Regions from separate parts of the Homo sapiens genome. Here region 2 is linked to region 1. The links come from fine-mapping of genetic effects on gene expression. A gene starts in region 1. The other region holds a variant in brackets. All regions are shown on one strand. Distances are between the middles of the regions. Region 1 holds the start of PPP5C (protein phosphatase 5 catalytic subunit). Region 2 holds the start of HIF3A (hypoxia inducible factor 3 subunit alpha).

What was found.
Region 2: its variant is fine-mapped to the expression of PPP5C in aorta (GTEx, PIP above 0.99).

The regions. Positions count from the first base shown.
Region 1 is chr19:46,342,235-46,350,996 of GRCh38, reverse strand. PPP5C (protein phosphatase 5 catalytic subunit) reads right to left here and starts at 3,910. Exons shown (of 13, transcript NM_006247.4): 1 at 3,780-3,910. The coding sequence starts at 3,900. It overlaps HIF3A (hypoxia inducible factor 3 subunit alpha), which reads right to left. Exons shown (of 15, transcript NM_152795.4): 15 at 7,564-8,762. RefSeq lists enhancers at 1-250, 297-536, 1,357-1,416, 3,663-3,792, 3,893-4,072 and a silencer at 937-996.
Region 2 is chr19:46,293,132-46,301,893 of GRCh38, reverse strand. HIF3A (hypoxia inducible factor 3 subunit alpha) reads right to left here and starts at 4,852. Exons shown (of 15, transcript NM_152795.4): 1 at 4,792-4,852. The coding sequence starts at 4,817. The variant C/G (reference allele first, on the strand shown) is at 3,686.

The DNA.
Region 1 (8,762 bases):
GGACGAGGCTCTGCCCCCAGGATTTCTGGAATAGGCCTGAACTTACAGAGCAACCAGCCACAGTTGAGGGGACAGTCCTCTGAGCCCTGGGACCTCTCTTCTCCCTGCTGGGGCCCCTCTTCTCCTCAACAGGGCCAGTACAGCTCTGGGAGGAACCTGAACGTGGGAGCCAAGCACGTGGCGAGGAAGGGGATATCCGGGCCCTGCTGCTCACACACTCTGACCTTGGGCGAGTGGTTTTTTCACTTCTCCGAGCCTTGCTTCCTTTATAAAACAAACAGGGCCACTCCTAGCCATCTCCCAGCCCCCGGGGAGGATTAAACCCCACAGCGTACCTGGCCACAAGGCTCAATTAAGGTGAGCTGTCATTATTCTTTTTTATTGTTATTCCCACAGCCCTGGAGCCTGGGGCTCTGTGCCTGCTACTGCCTGACAGACAGCAAGGGGCCTGGGCCAGCAGGGCCGTTCTCCTCCGTGCCAGCTCAGTGCCAGGCCCCTCTGGCTGCCTGCCCAGCCCCAGGACTCCTGAGAGCCTGGATCCCAGGTCCTGGGGGGCAACAGGCTCCTCCCAATGGCTGCTGTGGCCCAGAATTCTGATGCGGCCTCAGCAGCAACCCCCATGCAGGCTGCTCCCATCCCAGGGAATTCCACCTTCCACCCCATCACCTGGCTGAGACAGCCTCATCCTGGACTCCTCTCCATCCCTCAGCCCCCAAAGCCCGGTAGTCACTTCACTTATTCTGCCAAGTCAGCCTCCTGAACATCTCTCAGATTCAGCCACTCCCTTCTCACCCTCCAGCCCCACCCAGCCCTGGTCTGGCCTCTCCTGCCCAGGTTCCTGGCTCAGCCTCCACCTGGCCTCGCAGCCTCTTGTCCTGCCCCTCCAGAGGGGTGTTCCTAAAACACAAACCTGACCCTGTCCTTTCCCTACTCAGAACCTCCCAGGGCTCCCCAGAGCCCCACCCCCCACCGCCACCCCACCCCAGAAAGCCCTGGCTCCTTCCTACAGCCCTGCGCAATCTACTCCCTGCAAACTCATCATAACCTCCTCCAGCCTCCTACGCTGTGGCCCCACTTATGGCCTCCATGCCTGGCTCTGCTCACCTTTGGGCCTTTGCCACCTGTTTTTGTTTTTTTTTTCCCTGCCTGGAGTACCGTCCACCCTCTCTCCAGGCAGCCACTCTCACTTCCTCCCTGAAACACTTCTTGAATCTATTTCTGTCCCTCCAGCCTGGCTGGCGATCACCACCCCTCCTCACCTGTCCACTAATCTAGACTCCTTCCTGTCTTACCCTGGAGTCCAGTCTCTGCATGGCAGCCAGGGATCTTTTCTGAACACTAACTGAACCACAGCACCCCGCTCTTGAAACTTCCCATGGCATCGACCACCCCCAGGATGACACCCATATTCCCCAATCTGACTTCCAAGGTTCTACCTCTGGCCTCATCTCTCACTGGTCCTACCTCCCTCTCACGGCTCCCACCGGATCGAGCTTCTCCACACTTTGCTTCTGCTCCCGTTGGAGGCCAAGTCTCTTCCAGGGCTCCAGACCCTTCCCACCTCCGCCTTCTCCAGGGTTTTGCTGCTGCAAGTCCCCCCTCTCCTGTGCAGAATCAATTCTCCATCTCTATTGGACTCTACTCTCTTCCATCCTTACAAAAAATCCATCTTTCCCTGACACTGCATCTTCTCTCTTTTTTTTTTTCTTGAGACGGAGTCTGTTGCCCAGGCTGGAATGCAGTGGTGTGATCTTGGCTCACTGCAGCCTCTGCCTCCAAGGATCAAGCAATTCTCCTGCCTCAGCCTCCCAAGTAGCTGGGACTACAGGTGTGTGCCACCACACCCAACTAATTTTTTCAGCAGAGACGTCGTTTCACCATGTTGGCCAGGTTGGTCTCGAACTCCTGTGCACGTTCTCGTCTTACCACCCTCCCCCATTTCTCCACTCCCCTTCAGAACCAATACTCCTAACACTTAACATTTGCTGTCTCCACTTCCTCCCCTCCCATTCACTCTTCAGCACCTCCTGGCTGCATCACCCCCATCACTCCCCAATAACTGCTCCTGTCAACATCACTACCAGCATCCATGGAGCCAAAGCCAATGGCCAGTGCTTGCCTTGGCAGCATCGGACTAAAGGCACCAGCTCCTTGTTCTAGAAGCGCTCCCTTCTCTCAGCCTTCCCGACACCTTTCCTGGCTTCCTTTCCACCTCACTAAGTGCTCCTCCTTAGCCTCACCCTCTTCCATTTGGGTTCTGTCCTAAGTCCCCCCTCTAGACCCTCTTACTAGATGATCTCATCCATTCCCAACCATAGTTTGATCACACCCAAATTCTTCTCCAGTCCAGACTGGCCCATTTACTTAATGTGTCTTCTTGTAGGGCTGGGCGTGGTGGCTCATGCCTGTAATCCCAGCACTTTGAGAGGCCGAGATGGGCGGATCACCTGCGGTCAGAGGTTCGACACCAGCCTGGCCAACATGGCGAAACCCCATCTCTACTAAAAGTACAAAAATTATCTGGGCATGGTGGTGTGCGTCTATAATCCCAGCTACTCGGGAGGCTGAGGCAGGAGAATCGCTTGAACCAGGGAGGCGGAGGTTGCAGTGAGCCGAGATTGCGCCATTGCACTCTAGCCTGGGCAAAAAGAGCAAAACTCCCGTCTCAAAAAAAAAAAAAAAAAAAAAATTCCAAACTGGTCTTTGTAATGACTCACGGAGACCCTGCATGATCTGGCCTCTGTCCTAATCTCATCTTGTTATTGGTCTCCCCCTAAGTAGCCAAAGCCCCAGCCATGCCAGTACCCTTTCATTCCCCATCCCAGGGCCTTTGCACAGGCTGCTTTACCTCCCTGGAACACTCCTCTCCAGTTCTCCCTCTGTGAGTTTCAGCTTAAACGCCTCCTGCTCAGTAAGGCCTTCCCCCACTACCCTATCTAAAGTAGCCTCCAACCCTTATTCTCTACTTCATCACACTGCTGGTTTGCTTTCAAAGCACTCATCACAATTTAAGTATTTTACTTATTTACATGGTTTTTTTTTGTTTTTTTTTTTTTCATGTCTGGTTCACCTGCAAAATTACAAGCTAAGGACAGGGCCACATCTGTCTCATTCACTGCTATATCCCCAAAGTCAAGCACAGTCCTTGGCACATAACAGGTACTCAATAAATATTTGTTGAATTAATGAATGAATGGGTGCCCCACACTTGACTCTCAATATTCTAAGTGATACTATTCTTAAGGATCCCCACCCTTACTCCCAAGGCCCCCACCATCACATTCCTTTTCCTCGGGTCAGCCCAAATCTCCTACTTCCTTGTTCCCCCCATCTAATGATCCATTCCCCACCCCCACGATTGCCTTCTCTATTGGGGCTGTGCCCCCTCTACCCCCCACTTGGCGGCACCCACCCCAGGACTCCCCATTTGGTAGCGCCATCAATCACTCCCCCACCACATGTCACTGCCTGGTAGCGCCCTCTACAGGCCTCACGTTTGGTAGCGCCCTCATTCCAGTCCCCCTCTCGCCCCACAATTGGTGGCGCCCTCCTCAGTCTCTCCACTGAGTAGCACCCGCTCCGCACGCCACTCCTAGGTATCACTCTCCGAAGCCCCCTATGTCGCTCCTTGGCAGCGCCATCCTGGGCCTCCCCACGCCCGGTCACTTGGTAGTGTCTGCCCCGCGCCCAGGCTGCAGCTCCGCGTTGCTATGGTTCCGCGCGGGCCCGGCACCCCTCAGCCTGGGCCACTGTCCACCCTCCCTGCCAGGCGGGCGCACCTTTGAAGTAGTCATTGGCCTGAGTCTTGAGCTCCTCTGCCCGCTTCAGAGCTCCATCAGCCGGGGGTTCGTCCCGGGGGGGCTCAGCACACTCAGTCCTCTCGCCCTCCGCCATCGCCATGCCGCAAAGCGACCCCTACCCTGGCAACGGCCGCCAGCGGCACCCGGCCGAACCGTCGCGAAGGAGCGCCGGGTGGCCGCCGCCGCTGCCGCACAAGTGTCGTAAAGCGCGGGCCCTGAAGGCGCCCTTCACGCGCCTGCGCAGGTCCCTTTCGCCACAGAGCGCGCGGAGGACAAGGTGACCAGAGGTTCCCCAGACGGTACCCCTGGTAGAGAGAGCCAATAGGGAATGAGAGAAGGGGCGCGCGGGGAAACAGACCTGGTGTGGCCTCTCCTCCCAAAGTTACCGTGTTCCAAGGCTGTAAAAAGTTTCTCGGTTCTGAAAGTGGGATTTCCCCGCTGTCCTCTAGGGTTGGGGGGTGGGTTGTGAATGTCGCTGGCGGGTGTGGCTGTTTTGCAAGGCAGCGCCATGCCCTACGCGGAGCCGGACCCGGGCGTCGAGCCCTATTGTCGACTACCTGTGTGACCTTGAACAAATCTTCCCTTCCTCTCTAGGGTCTCAGTTACCCATCTCTGAAAAATTAGTGGTTTCTCAAGCCAAAAAGGGTCCAACCTTGAGGGTCAGTGTTTGAGTTTTTAACTGAAGGCACTCTGGATTTCAAGTCCTGAGCAAGGCTTAGAAGTGTGTTGCACCATCTCCTTTCTTCCTGTGTTCAGCTTCCCAAATCCTGAATCTTCAAATAAACTCTCCTGTTTGTGTTTTTACAGATTCTCTTGTCTGAGATCACAGCATTGATTGCATGCACTCTGCCTCCCTCCAGTTTACCCTTCACATTTTTTTTTTTTTTTTTTTTTTTTTGAGAGGGAGTCTCCCTCTGTCGCCCAGGCTGGAGTGCAGTGGCGCCATCTAGGCTCACTGCAACCTCCGCCTCCCGGTTTAAGCGATTCTTCTGCCTCAGCCTCCCAAGTAGCTGGGATTACAGGCGCCCGCCACCATGCCCGGCTAATTTTTGTATTTTAGTAGAAACGGGTTTCACCACGTTGGCCAGGCTGGCCTCGAACTGCCGACCTCAAGCTATCCGCCCGCCTCGGCCTCCCAAAGTGCTGGGATTACAGGCGTGAGCCACCGTGCCCGGCCGAGGGATCTTTCTAAGACATGATAAAACCATGGCACACTCTCGCTCCCAGGCTTCCATGGCCCCAGCACCCTTAGGAGAAAACCCAAACTCCTGATTAGGAGACCCTGAATAGTCTTAACCTCAGGCTGAATAGTCTAATATCCAGATTCCACCCCTTTGCCAATCCCCACCCGCCGTACACGCTTCCAGTCTGTCCTTTCTAAGCCCTCATGTAGCACTAAGTCCTGTAAGGCTCTGGATCCCCTCCTGGAAGCACACTCCTAAACCTATCTATCCCACTCCCAAACCTCTTGTTAGTCCAACCCCATCTCTCCTACTGGCCCCCAGCACAACCAACAATCACCCTAAAGGGCAGATATTAGTATCATCTCCATTTTACAGATAAAGACACAGACTTGCAGAGGTGTTTGACGAAGGTCACAACAACATAAGAAGGTGACAGAGCCAGGATCAGGAATCCCATCTAATTCCTATGTCCTTCATTGCCACTCTACTGCCTCTGTAGGTGCCAGAGCCCATCTTGGTGGGTTAGTAAATTTTTCTTTTGTTTGTTCGTATTGTTTGTTTTGGGGTTGGGGGAAAAGGAGCTGCCATAGTGGATTTGAATTCTGGTTTCGAGTCCAGCGGAATCCTTCCTGACACTGTGACCTTGGGCAAGTGATCACCCTCTTCTAAGCCTCAGTTTCAACCTCTGTAAAGTGGGGATAATAATTATCCCCATCATACAGGATTAGAGGAGAGTTCGACAACATGAGTACAGCATTTGTCAGGGAGCCTGACACAGAGTAGTACTTTTATATTCACTCCATCACAAATACTCAAAGTGGGCTGGGTATGGTAGCTCATGCCTGTAATCGAAGCACTTTGGGAGGCCAAAGCAGGCAGATCACTTGAGGTCAGAAGTTCAAGACCAGCCTGGCCAACATGGCAAAACCCCGTCACTACCAGAAATACAAAAATTTAGCTGGGCATGATGGTGCGCACCTATAGTCCCAGTTATTAGGGAGGTTGAGGCAGGAGAATTGCTTGAACCTAGGAGGCGGAGGCTGCAGTGAGCCGAGATCGCGCCACTGCACGACAGCCTGGGCTACAGAGTGAGACTCTGTCTCAAAAAACAAATAAAACAAAACAAATATTCAGAGTTGGGCAGAGTGCCTAGTGCTGTGATGGGAGGGGGCTTCCAAGGGGAGCTTTTAGGGGCACTTTACCCAATTGGAGCAGGCAGGGAAGGCTTCCTGGAGTAGCTGTTACCTAAACCAAGATGTGAAATATGAGTAGGAGGTAACCAAGTGAGGGGAGAGGGGAAGGGAGAGAGGCATTTCAGGCAGAAGAATAGGAAGTGCAAAGGCTTGAGAGTGTTTTTCTTCCCTTGAAGAGATTCCTATGTGCAACCCTGTATGGGGGGTTATGAGAGTGACGTACATGACAACAGACACACCCACCTGCACATGAGTCCATGGACACACACTCTTGCACACACATGCTCACTTAACTATGGGCAATCATGTCACACACACATTGGTACCCAGAATTATAGCATCAAGCAGTCCCACACATGTACACAGAATCACATCATACAGACATACATAGGCAAAAAAAAAAAAAAAAAATCACAGCACCTTCCACACTCAGAAACACAGAAACCCAAAATAACCAGAAACACACATAAGGCAGAATCACTTCACCCAGATACTAATATGCACTTGTAGAAGGAATCACAACCCCACCCACCTGCTGCAACACAGGTTCACAGAATGTGACAAAGACCCATACACATACACAGAATGACACTGTGCACACACTCGTGTGCATGCACACACACACACACATACAGATACACAGAATCAGAAAGTAACATGGGGCTGGTGCAGTGGCTCAAGCCTATAATCCTAGAACTTTGGGAGGCTGAGGCAGGAGGATCGCTTAAACCCAGGAGTTTGAGACCAGCCTGGGCAACATGGTAAGGCTCTGTCTCTACAAAAAAATGAAAATAATTAGCTGGGCCTCGTGTCATGCACCTGTAGTCCCAGCTACCGGGAAGGGTGAGATGGGAGGATTGCTTGAGCCCAGGAGGCTGCAGTGAGCCGTGATCACACCACTGCACTCCAGCTTGGGTGAGATAGTGAGACCCTGTCTCGAAAGAAAGAAAGGGCCTGGCATGGTGGCTCATGCCTGCAATCCCAGCACTTTGGGAGGCCGAGGCGGGCAGATTACCTGAGTTCAGGAGTTCGAGACCAGCCTGACCAATGTGGTGAAACCCCATCTCTATTAAAAACACAAAAATTAGCTGGGTGTGGTGGCACATGCCTGAAATCCCAGCTACTTGGGAGACGGAGGCAGGAGAATCGCTTGAACCTGGGTAGTGGAGGTTGCAGTGAGCAGAGATTGTGCCACTGCACTCCAGCCTGGGCAACAGAGTGAGACTCCAAGAAAAAAAAAAAAAGAAAAGAAAGAGAGAGAGCGGAAGGAAGGAAGGAAGGAAGGAAGGAAGGAAGGAAGGAAGGAAGGAAAAAAAAAAAGACACTCAGCCACCAGTGCACCCACACTCCCAGAGGAGATCCAAAAGATGAGTCAACACGCAGAGCTCTGGTGCCTACCAAGGTGAGGTCTTTATGGTGTATAGAGATTGGTGAGTTTCAGAGCCAGTGTGGCCAGTCTAGTCCCTCCCCTTTCCCTAGCCCAGCACAATTCCCTCCATTGAGGGCCCACATCACCTCCAGAGGGAGGAGGGAGGGGTCAGACCCCCCCATAGCACCAATCTGGATAGGCCACTCTCTGACAAAACAGAGCGAGCAGTGCCTTCCACAAACGGGGTAAATGGGGCTAAGAAGGGGGGAGGCCTTTTCCTGTGGGAGACCAAGAGTAGCACCATCTGTAGAAAGAAAGCTGGGGGGTAAGGGAGGCACATAGATGGTGGCAGACAGCTGAGGGGTCCTGGCTTCTCTCCCCACCTGGCAATATGCAGACAGCACCGTGCCTGTGCATGTGCCTGTGTGGCTGGAGAAGTCTTCAGATTGCAAACCACCCAAGGGGTGAGGGAGCCCCAGGTGCCCCAAACATGTGGGGTAAAGTCAAGGTAAGTGCATGTCTGGAGGGCTGGGGTGGGAAGTGGAGGGGGTTCTGGGGCACAGAGATTGTAGGCAATGAGAATGGAGAGGCATGAAGTCCAGGAGCAGCACAGCCTAGAGGGTAGGGGTTTAGAATGGGAAAACTTAAGACTGAAAGAAGGAATTGGGTAAGTTCAGTGGGGTGGGAAGCCCAGAATAGATTTAGGAGGCTGGGGTCTGGAATTAGGGAGTTGAGGTTATAAGATTCAGAACCAGAGGAATCTTTAGGGAAAAGTCTAGATTCCAGAATCAGAAGCATTTGGAGGCTGAATTATAGAATCAGAGGAATTTGGATCTGAAATCAAAGGCAGTTGGAAGCTGTGAGGCTTAGAAGCAGAGGAATTTATAGAATAAAGCATAGAATTAGAAAAAGCCTGGCTGGGCTCAGTGGCTCATGCCTGTAGTCCCAGCACTTTGGTGAGGCCAAGGAGGGAGAATTGCTTGAGCTCAGTAGTTCGCGACCAGCCTGGGCAACATGGTGAAACCCCGTCTCTATTTTTTTTTTTTTAACAAAAAAAAGGAAAAACAAAAGCCTAAAATCTGAGTTCTAGAACCAGAGAGATTTGGGAACCATAAGATCTAGAATCAGAAGGAGTTGAGGGTGGTAAGATCTAAAACCAGAGAAATGTATAAGGCAAAGTCTAAAATCAGAAGATATTTGAAGGCTGAATTCTAGA
Region 2 (8,762 bases), 49 kb after region 1:
GACCCCTAGGAGGGAGCCATTTCATTTTTTATTTATTTTTTAATTTTTAATTTTTAATTTTTTTTTTTTTTTGAGACGGAGTTTCACTGTGTCAGCCAGGCTGGAGTATAATGGCACGATCTTGGCTCACTGCAGCCTCCGCCTGCCGGGTTCAATTCTCCTGCCTCAGCCTCCCGAGTAGCTGGGATTACAGACATCTGCCACCACGCCCGGCTAATTTTTGTATTTTTAGTAGAGACGGGGTTTCGCTATGTTGGCCAGGCTGCTCTCGAACTCTTGACCTCAAGTGATCTGCCCACCTCAGCCTCCCAAAGTGCTGGGATTACAGGCGTGAGCCACCATGCCCGGCGGAGGGGGGCATTTTAAACTTCCACTTTACAGTGGGGAAACAGCTTCTGAAAGGTGAAGTCCTTGCCCAAGAAGCCCCAAAGCCAACAACTGGCTGAGCTGGGATTTGAATCTGGGCGGTGAGTTTCCAGTCTTCAGGCTTTTTCTCATCCCCTCCTTGGGACCCATCCGAGGGAAGCAGAACCTCTAGGAGGGGACACTGTCCCTTCTTAAATTCAAGAGCAGAGGGTGCTTCTGGGGTGGCATCAACCCCAGCCTCAGGCAAGAGACCTGCGGCCCCACCCCCCAGGGCAAGGGGATATTTTCCTGTCTGGAGACAGAAGGAAAATAAAATCCTCAGTACAGCAGGGAGGGAGGCACAGAAGGGGGCAGTTTGGATGGAGGGTTGGAGCAGGGGAGATACGGCCCCTGTCCCCGTCCCCTCCTTCCTGGCTGGTGGGGGCAGGGGCCTCAGTCCTGCCTGCCTGAGAGGACATTCCGTCCTGTTCTGTTCCAGCCCTGTTTGTCTTCCTGCCCAGAGGGTGGGGGCGAGAGGGCCTCACGGAGCTGGGGGCCCGACAGGGAACAGGGAGTGGGAACTGGCAGGGAGGTGGGGCCAGTGCCCCACCTCCCAGGCAGCTGGGCTCTGTAATCCTCTGTGGCTGGGCTGCTTCTTCCATAGAAGGAGCCAGCTGGTGGCTGCGGAGGGACCCTCCTTCCAGCTCCCAGCCTGCCCTCTGGATGTTCTACTGGGAAGTGTGGGTCTTTCCCATTACACAGACTGGGGGCTAGTTCCTCTGGCTCAGGGTTCCAATCCTGACTCTACTACTTATCAACTCCACTACTTATAAGCTACTACTTACAAGCTCCACTACTTACAAGCTGTGTGACTGCTTATAAGCTGTGTGAACGTAATCTTGCTCTGTTGCCCAGGCTGGAGTGCAGTGGCTTGATCTTGGCTCACTGTCACCTCTGCCTCCCAGTTTCAAGCGATTCTCCTGCCTCAGCTTCCTGAGTAGCTGGGATTACAGGCTCCTGCCACCATGCCTGGGTAATTTTTGTATTTTTAGTAGAGACAGGGTTTCACTATGTTGGCCAGGCTGGTCTCGAACTCCTGACCTCAGGTGATCTGTCTGCCTCGGACTCCCAAAATGTTGGGATTACAGGCATGAGCCACCGCGCCCGGCCAAGGTTAGACTTACTGTTCTCCCTCTGTGCGTATCAGAGATGGAAAGCATGGGCTTAGGAGCTTCTTGGGCTTTACAGTAACCTGTGGATTACTCTACACGCCCCATAGTGTGGTGTGTGCATGCAATTACATACATGGTTTTTACACAAGCATCTTAAAAGGAGGATTAAATAACAGTGATACTGTAATAATGATAGCATTGGTGTGTTGAACACTCACGGAGCTAGAGAACCCATTAAGTCCTTACTACTACCCTATTGAGCAGGAGAAGTGATCTCTCCTTTTAAAGAGGCAGAAACTGAGATTTGGAGCAATGGCATCCCCAGCCCAAGTAACCCAGCGCCCTCCATTGACACTGAACTATGTTCAACCACTTCTCAGTGAATCCGACCATGTTCCTGCAATGACTTTCCCCATTTTCCGGATGAGGAAGCAGGCCCAAAGAGGTGATGAAACTGAAGCCACACAGCTTTTAGTAGCAGAGACAGGATTCAAGCCAGGTCTGTCTACTCTGACTTGAGCTCAGTTTGTGGCACACCTGTTGGGTGTCCCGCCCCCCACCGTCTGCTTCCTCACTACTGGCTCCTCATCTTGATCTGGGGTGGTGGAAAGGGAGTGTGATACCCAGTTTTCTTTTTTTTTTCTATTTTTCTATTTTTTTTTTTTTTGCGACAAGGTCCGGCTGTGTTGTCCAGGCTGGAGTGCAGTGGCCTGATCTTGGCTCATTACAACCTCTGCCTCAGGCTCAAGCCATCCTCCCACCTCAGCCTCCTGAGTAGCTGGGACTACAGACACTCACCACCATGCCTGGCTAATTTGCTTACTTCTAGTATAGATGAGATTTTGCCATGTTGCCCAGGCTGGTCTTGAACTCAAGCAATCCGCCCACCTCAGCCTCCCAAAGTGCTGGAATAACAGGCCTGAGCCACCGCACCCGGCCTGCCCGTATTTCCAGGATCTGAAAGTGAGGCTCAGAGCGGCAGTCACTGACACAATTCCACACCACCAGGAAGTGGGTGAGATGGGATTTGAACCCTGTCTTTGGGCCCTGTGCTCTTGGCAGGTGTGGCCCCCACCCAAGAGGCCCCTGCCCCACCCCTCTTTTGCCTAGCAGCCTCGGTCCCTTCCCCCGTCACACCCCTGCTGCCTCCAGATCGCCCCAGCTGGCCCCATGCCCAGCCCTGGTCCAGCCCCCTGGCACTCTGCCCAGCTTGGGACGTGCAGCTGGAACCCTGCCACCCTTCCTCCGTGTTCCAGCCAAGAACAGGGGGTGGGGCCAGGGCCTGGCGGGCTCAGGGTGAGGCCTGAGAATGGGGGTTGGGGCCCAGTGCCCCCCTCCAACCAGGAAGGAGAGAAGTTCACCTCTTCCCTGCCCTGAAGAATTTGCCACCCATGAGGAAGGCATAATAAAAGCAGGCAGTCCCTGCCCACATTCAGGGCTACTTCTGGGCTTTTCTATTCTGACACCCAGCTGGGTATTGGGGGGGGGCGTCTTACGAAAAGCACAGAGGATTTGGTGGGTGGGGGTTTAGGTTGTAGCTGGGCAAGGATGCCTTTTGGCATTGCAGAGAGGTGTCCTGAGAGACCAGAGGCAGGGTTTGGGTTTGCAAAGGGACTTGGCATGGGGGTCTGGGGGAGTCTCTCTGCCCCCCGACTCTGCCTGTTCTCAAGGACATGGTAATCTGGTAGGGTGCTGGTCCCCAAAATCCTATCTTCTCCGGGAATACTACCTCACTGGGCACTCTGGGCTGCAAGCCGTACCCACCAGGGACTTCCCAAGAGCATCCTTGGCCACAGTGGGATGGCAGCCAGCCCCAGCTAGAGGAAGGGAAGGGGGAAAGGAGGTGTTGGGGGCCCACTCACCATCGCCCAGGCCCCCGTTGGCTGAAGGGCCATCCAGGGGGTGCAGGAGGGGATGCGGTGCAGCCAGGACCCGGGTGCGAGTTACGAGTGGGTGCGCACGGCGGTGAGATGACTCCACAGGAAAGGGCCGGCCTTGGGTGGGGAGGGGGGGCACCCGAGCTCAGCCAAGAGGGGCCCCCACCCAGCCAGGAGGGGGCGCTGAGAGGGGCGGAACGACAGCTGGCCCAAAAGGGGTGGGATAGAGTTCCTTGTTAGGCCCAGAGCCAGGGCCTGGAATAGAGTAGGGGACAGGGGAGAGGATGGGGG[C/G]GGTTAGAAACATGGGGTGTGCATGGATCCAATCAGGCCTGAGAAGCCAGGGAGGAGGGAAGGGGGTGAGGCTTACTGGGTGCCTCACATTGGACAGGGAAAGCTGAGGACCTAGAACATTTTCCAGGGTCCCATGGGAACATGGCCAGATAAAACCCCCCGGCAGCGGCCCCAGGGCACAGGTTCCCCTGTGTTCCAGCAGAGCTGCACCTGCTGGGCAAGTGAACCCAGAAACCCACCCTCTGCCCGGGATGACCCCATCTGAGTACTGCGGCAGGGGGCGTTCCCATCACAGCCTGCAGGCTCACAGCACCCTGCCATGGAGTCTCCCCAAAATAAAGCTTGGATGAGGCTCCCCTGTCTCTCAGGATGGGGGTGCAGGGGTGAGATGAGGGGCTGGACTTTGGGAAGTGGGTCCAGCTTGTTTCCCTGTTATTTAAGGGGGTGACTCTGGCTTTTGAAAGGATACAAAAAGTCTCTTGGGAAGGGTCCCAGACGGCTTCTGAAAGGGGCTCCCCTCTGCCCATTTCTAGGGAAACCCAATGTTTAGGAGACTGTGTCAGGAAGCATACTATTAGAGGAGATCTCTCCTCTCTTGAACTCAGGAGCTGAATGCCATTCCAAGGGACTCCCTATATGTGGGAAGGCTCCATTTAGGGGTATCCCATATCACCTAGGATCCCAGGCACCTGGTGGCAAAGAATACCCTCAATTTTGGGGGGTTCAGAGGCCAGAGGGATCAATATGTGGAGGGCGAATATCTCCCGCAGAAGCCTGGGGACTGCTCAAATGCAATCACCCCTAATTTATCAGGAATCCCAAGTTCCACCCCCAACCAGGAGGGTAAATGAGCCTTGGGTAGCGAGAAATCGGGAACCCCGAAGCCGCTCTTGGCCAGAGGGGCGGGGCAGCCAGAGACGTAGGGAATCCCCCACCCCTGCAGTCCCTAAGGGTGGAGAGTGCGGTGGGGATGTGCCTCCAACTGCGCGCCCCGGGGCGTTCTTGGCTCGCACCCGCGAACCCCACCCCCCCCAACAATCCAGCTCAGGGGTCTCCAGGAGGAGAGCCCCCCAATTCCCAGAACTCCTGCCCCCGAACTTCAGTACCTTGCGCGCTGCAGCCCCAGCGCCATGGCTCGCCAGTCGCCGCTCCGGAGCCCTCGGAGGCCCCTAGCCCCCTCCCCGGCCTTGCGAGCCCCCTCCCCAGCTCCTCCCCACGCCGCGCGGTTGGCTGTGCCACGCCAGGCCTGAGGCTCTGATTGGGCAACGGTATGTCACTCCTGAAAAGGAGGCGGAACCAGAGGGAAAGACTTGGAAAGGCAAGGGGGGGATACCGTGTAATACACACCCCCCAACCACGCCCCTCGCCGCGGACTTCCTCGGCAGTGTATCCCGCACCGTCGGCTGAACGCGCCTTCTCTAGTCCAGCCTCTGAAGTGCCAACGCCAGTACTCTTCTGAACCCACTCAGTTCACTCTGCTCTCTGGACCCCAGTCCCCAGCCTCTAACCCCCACCTCTTCTCACCTTTCCATTTCCTAACCCCAGTTGAGCCCCTCTGACCTCCAATCCCACCCCTTCCAAACCCCTAGCCCTGCCTTCTCTATCCCTTCTAAGGTATTCACAGAGTACCCCACATCTCCTCCCCACCCCCCAACTCCCAACCCCACCCCAGTTCCACAATCCTTGGCCCTCTGGCACCTACCCTTCTCTCTCTCTCCCCAGCCCCTCCCTGCCACCCCAGTCCCATACCCCACTTCGCCCCCATTCCTCCAGTCTGCACCCTCTGCACCCCAGCTTACCTTCCCTACCCCCTCTACTCCACCCTAACCTCTTGGCCTCTCTGACTCCCTTTTCAGGTTCCCATTGATGAATAATTAAGCTTATGTCAAGTAAATATGTTTTAACTCAATCACACCTACTTCAAAAAAGAGCCGAGAAATGTATTTTTTTTTAACTAGTCGACTATGAAGGGAGAAGTACAAAGGTACCAAGCAAGGGTGAAAGCATTACAGTTGGATAAGGAACAGAGTGTGTGTGTGTGTGTGTGTGTGTGTGTGTGTTGGACCACTATTCTGGATTTGGTTGGCAGGGAAGAGGATACTACAGCAGAAGTGGCCTTGTTGAACCTTGAACTTGCCAGGCAAGTTGCTCACCTTAGGGCCTTTGCACTTGCTGTTCCCACAGCTTAGCACACTCTTCCTCCAGGAATCCACACGGCTCCCCGGCTCACGCCAGTTCCCCACTCTGTTTTCTTTTGGGAAACCACTTCTCTGTCCTCTTCATCTATTTAATTTGAATAGGGCTTGGCCACTGCTCTGCCTTCACCAGCTCCAGGGATGGACATAGGATCCAAACCTGGCTAATCAGTTGAGTCTGCTTCCCTGGCCACAGTGATTGGTTCAGGGAAGGCATGTTACCTAATTTAGCCCAATGAGAATCAACCCTGAGACATTTGCTGAAACCATTAGGAAAGAGGATTTTCTATGTCTGCTGGAATTGCTGGGCAGATGGAGCAGATGGGGCTCACACTGCCACAAAGAGAGGAGAGGCTTTATGAGATGAGGTTCAGTGCAAAAGAGATTGTGCAGAAATGAACGATTGTGAAAGGCAGTTTTGACACCAGCACTTGAGTGCCTGGATCCAGCCATACCTGAACTCCAGTTTAATTCTTGGATTTTTCAAATGAAACCCACAATGGGCTTTTTTTTTTTTTTTTTTTTTTTTTTGCTGTTGCTTTTGTCAAATATTGCTTCATTCACTATTGCCTTATTTGCTTTGTGCTTAGATTCGTTTGAATGGATTTTAGATACTTGCACCCAAAAGAATCTTGATAGAGAAATCAGCTTTCAACCCTCAGTGTAGAGGCAGGTGGGATGTTAGAAAAGGAGCAGTCTGAATTATAAAGGGGGGCCGGCCATGGTGGCTCACGACTGTAATCCCAGCACTTTGGGAGGCTGAGGCGGGCAGATCACCTGAGGTCAGGAGTTCAAGACCAGCCTGGCCAACATGGTGAAACCCCATCTCTACTAAAAATACAAAAATTAGCCGGGTGTGGTGGCACACCCTTGTAATCCCAGCTACTCGGGAGGCTGAGGCAGGAGAATCGCTTGAACCCAGGAGGCAGAGGTTGCAGTGAGCCAAGATCATGCCATTGCACTCCAGCCTGAGTGACAGAGTAAGACTCTGTCTCTAAATAAATAAATAAATAAATAAATAGTAGAAGGGGCTGCAGAGGAAGCATTGTTCTTAGAGCTTCTTAGGGTTTAGGTAAGGACATGGGGTAGAAGAGATGTTCAAGGGAGAAACTGAGGAAGGGGAGTGGTTGTTAACAAGACAACGAGAGTTCCAGTGGGTGTGTTGGAAGAGTTTGGAGGGGGCAGTAGTTGGATGATAGATTCAGTGGAAGAACTCATTGATTTTGGTATGAGGGAGTCACAGCAGAGAGCCAATCGGAGGGATTTACAGTGCCCAAGAAAAGCTGGCACTATTTCAACAAACATTAAAATAGAACTAACACTTTACACACAGAGATGCAACAGGTGTCTCTCTACGATGTAGGTTAGCGTTAAACTTCGCTCAGAGGTTCCCAGCAGCTAAGGCAATAAGGGAAATGTGTCCGTTAAAATGATTTCCAACTTTTGCTAAAGGATATGTTCTTGTTTGAAGAGACAAGTTTTGTACCTGGAACTGAAGTTAAGTGGGAATTTAAGACCTTTTAATATTAAATTGTAGAGTGGTCTGAACTGCCAGGAACTGTGGGAGCTTGGTGGAAGCACCTTACCCACCCTGTCGGGGCTGTCAGAAAGGTTTATTGTGGAAGGGGCATTTGGATGCAGACTTAAGAAGGAATAACAGTGAGGCAAGCAGAGAGAGGGTTGGGGACAGCCGAGTGCAGTGGCTCTCAACTGTAATCTCAATGACTCAGGAGGCTGAAGGGGGAGGATCGTTTGAGGCCAGGAGTTTGAGACCAGCCTGGGCAACATAGCAAGATCCCATCTCTTAATTTTTATTTTATTTATGTATGTATTTATTTATTTTTTGAGACTGAGTGTTGCTCTTGTCGCCTAGGCTGGAGTTCATTGGTGCGATTTGGCTCACTGCAACCTCTGCCTCCCAGGTTCAAGCAATTCTCCTGCCTTGGCCTCCTTAGTAGCTGGGATTACAGGCATCTGACATCACGCCTGGCTAATTTTTGTATTTTTAGTAGAGATGGGGTTTCACCATGTTGGCCAAAATGGTCTCAAAATCCAGACCTCAGGTGATCCGCCCATCTCAACCTCCCAAAGAGCTGGGATTAGAGGCATGAGCCACTGCACCCGGCCTCTATCTCTTTTTTTTTTTTTTTTTTTTTTTTTTTGAGACGGAGTCTCGCTCTGTCGCCCAGGCTGGACTGCGGACTGCAGTGGCGAAATCTCGGCTCACTGCAAGCTCCGCTTCCCGGGTTCACGCCATTCTCCTGCCTCAGCCTCCCGAGTAGCTGGGACTACAGGCGCCCGCTACCGCGCCCGGCTAATTTTTTGTATTTTTAGTAGAGACGGGGTTTCACCTTGTTAGCCAGGATGGTCTCGATCTCCTGACCTCATGATCCACCTGCCTCGGCCTCCCAAAGTGCTGGGATTACAGGCGTGAGCCACCGCGCCCGGCCCGGCCTCTATCTCTTAATTTTTTTTTTTAACTTTGCCAGGCATGGTGATGTGCACCTATAGTCCCAGTTACTTGGGAGGCTGAGACGGGAGGATTGCTTGAGCCCAGGAGCTGGAGGCTGCAATGAGCTATGATTGTGCCACTGCACTCCAGTCTGGGCAACAGAGTGAGACCTCATCTGTAAAATAAATAAATACATGAATGAGAGGGCTGGGGGAAAAGTATTGTAGGCAAAGGGAAGATAATACAACAGTTTGGAGGCAAAAGAGAGCTTGGCACATTGAGGGAACTGACAGGTAGACAGTGGTTGCAGCCTGGATTATAAAGAGAGGAGATGGGAAGTGATGGTGGAGGGGTGCATCGGGGTGAGATCAAACCAAGTCTGAAAGCCATTAAAGAATCTCGGGCATTCCCCAGGGAGCACTGGGGAGCC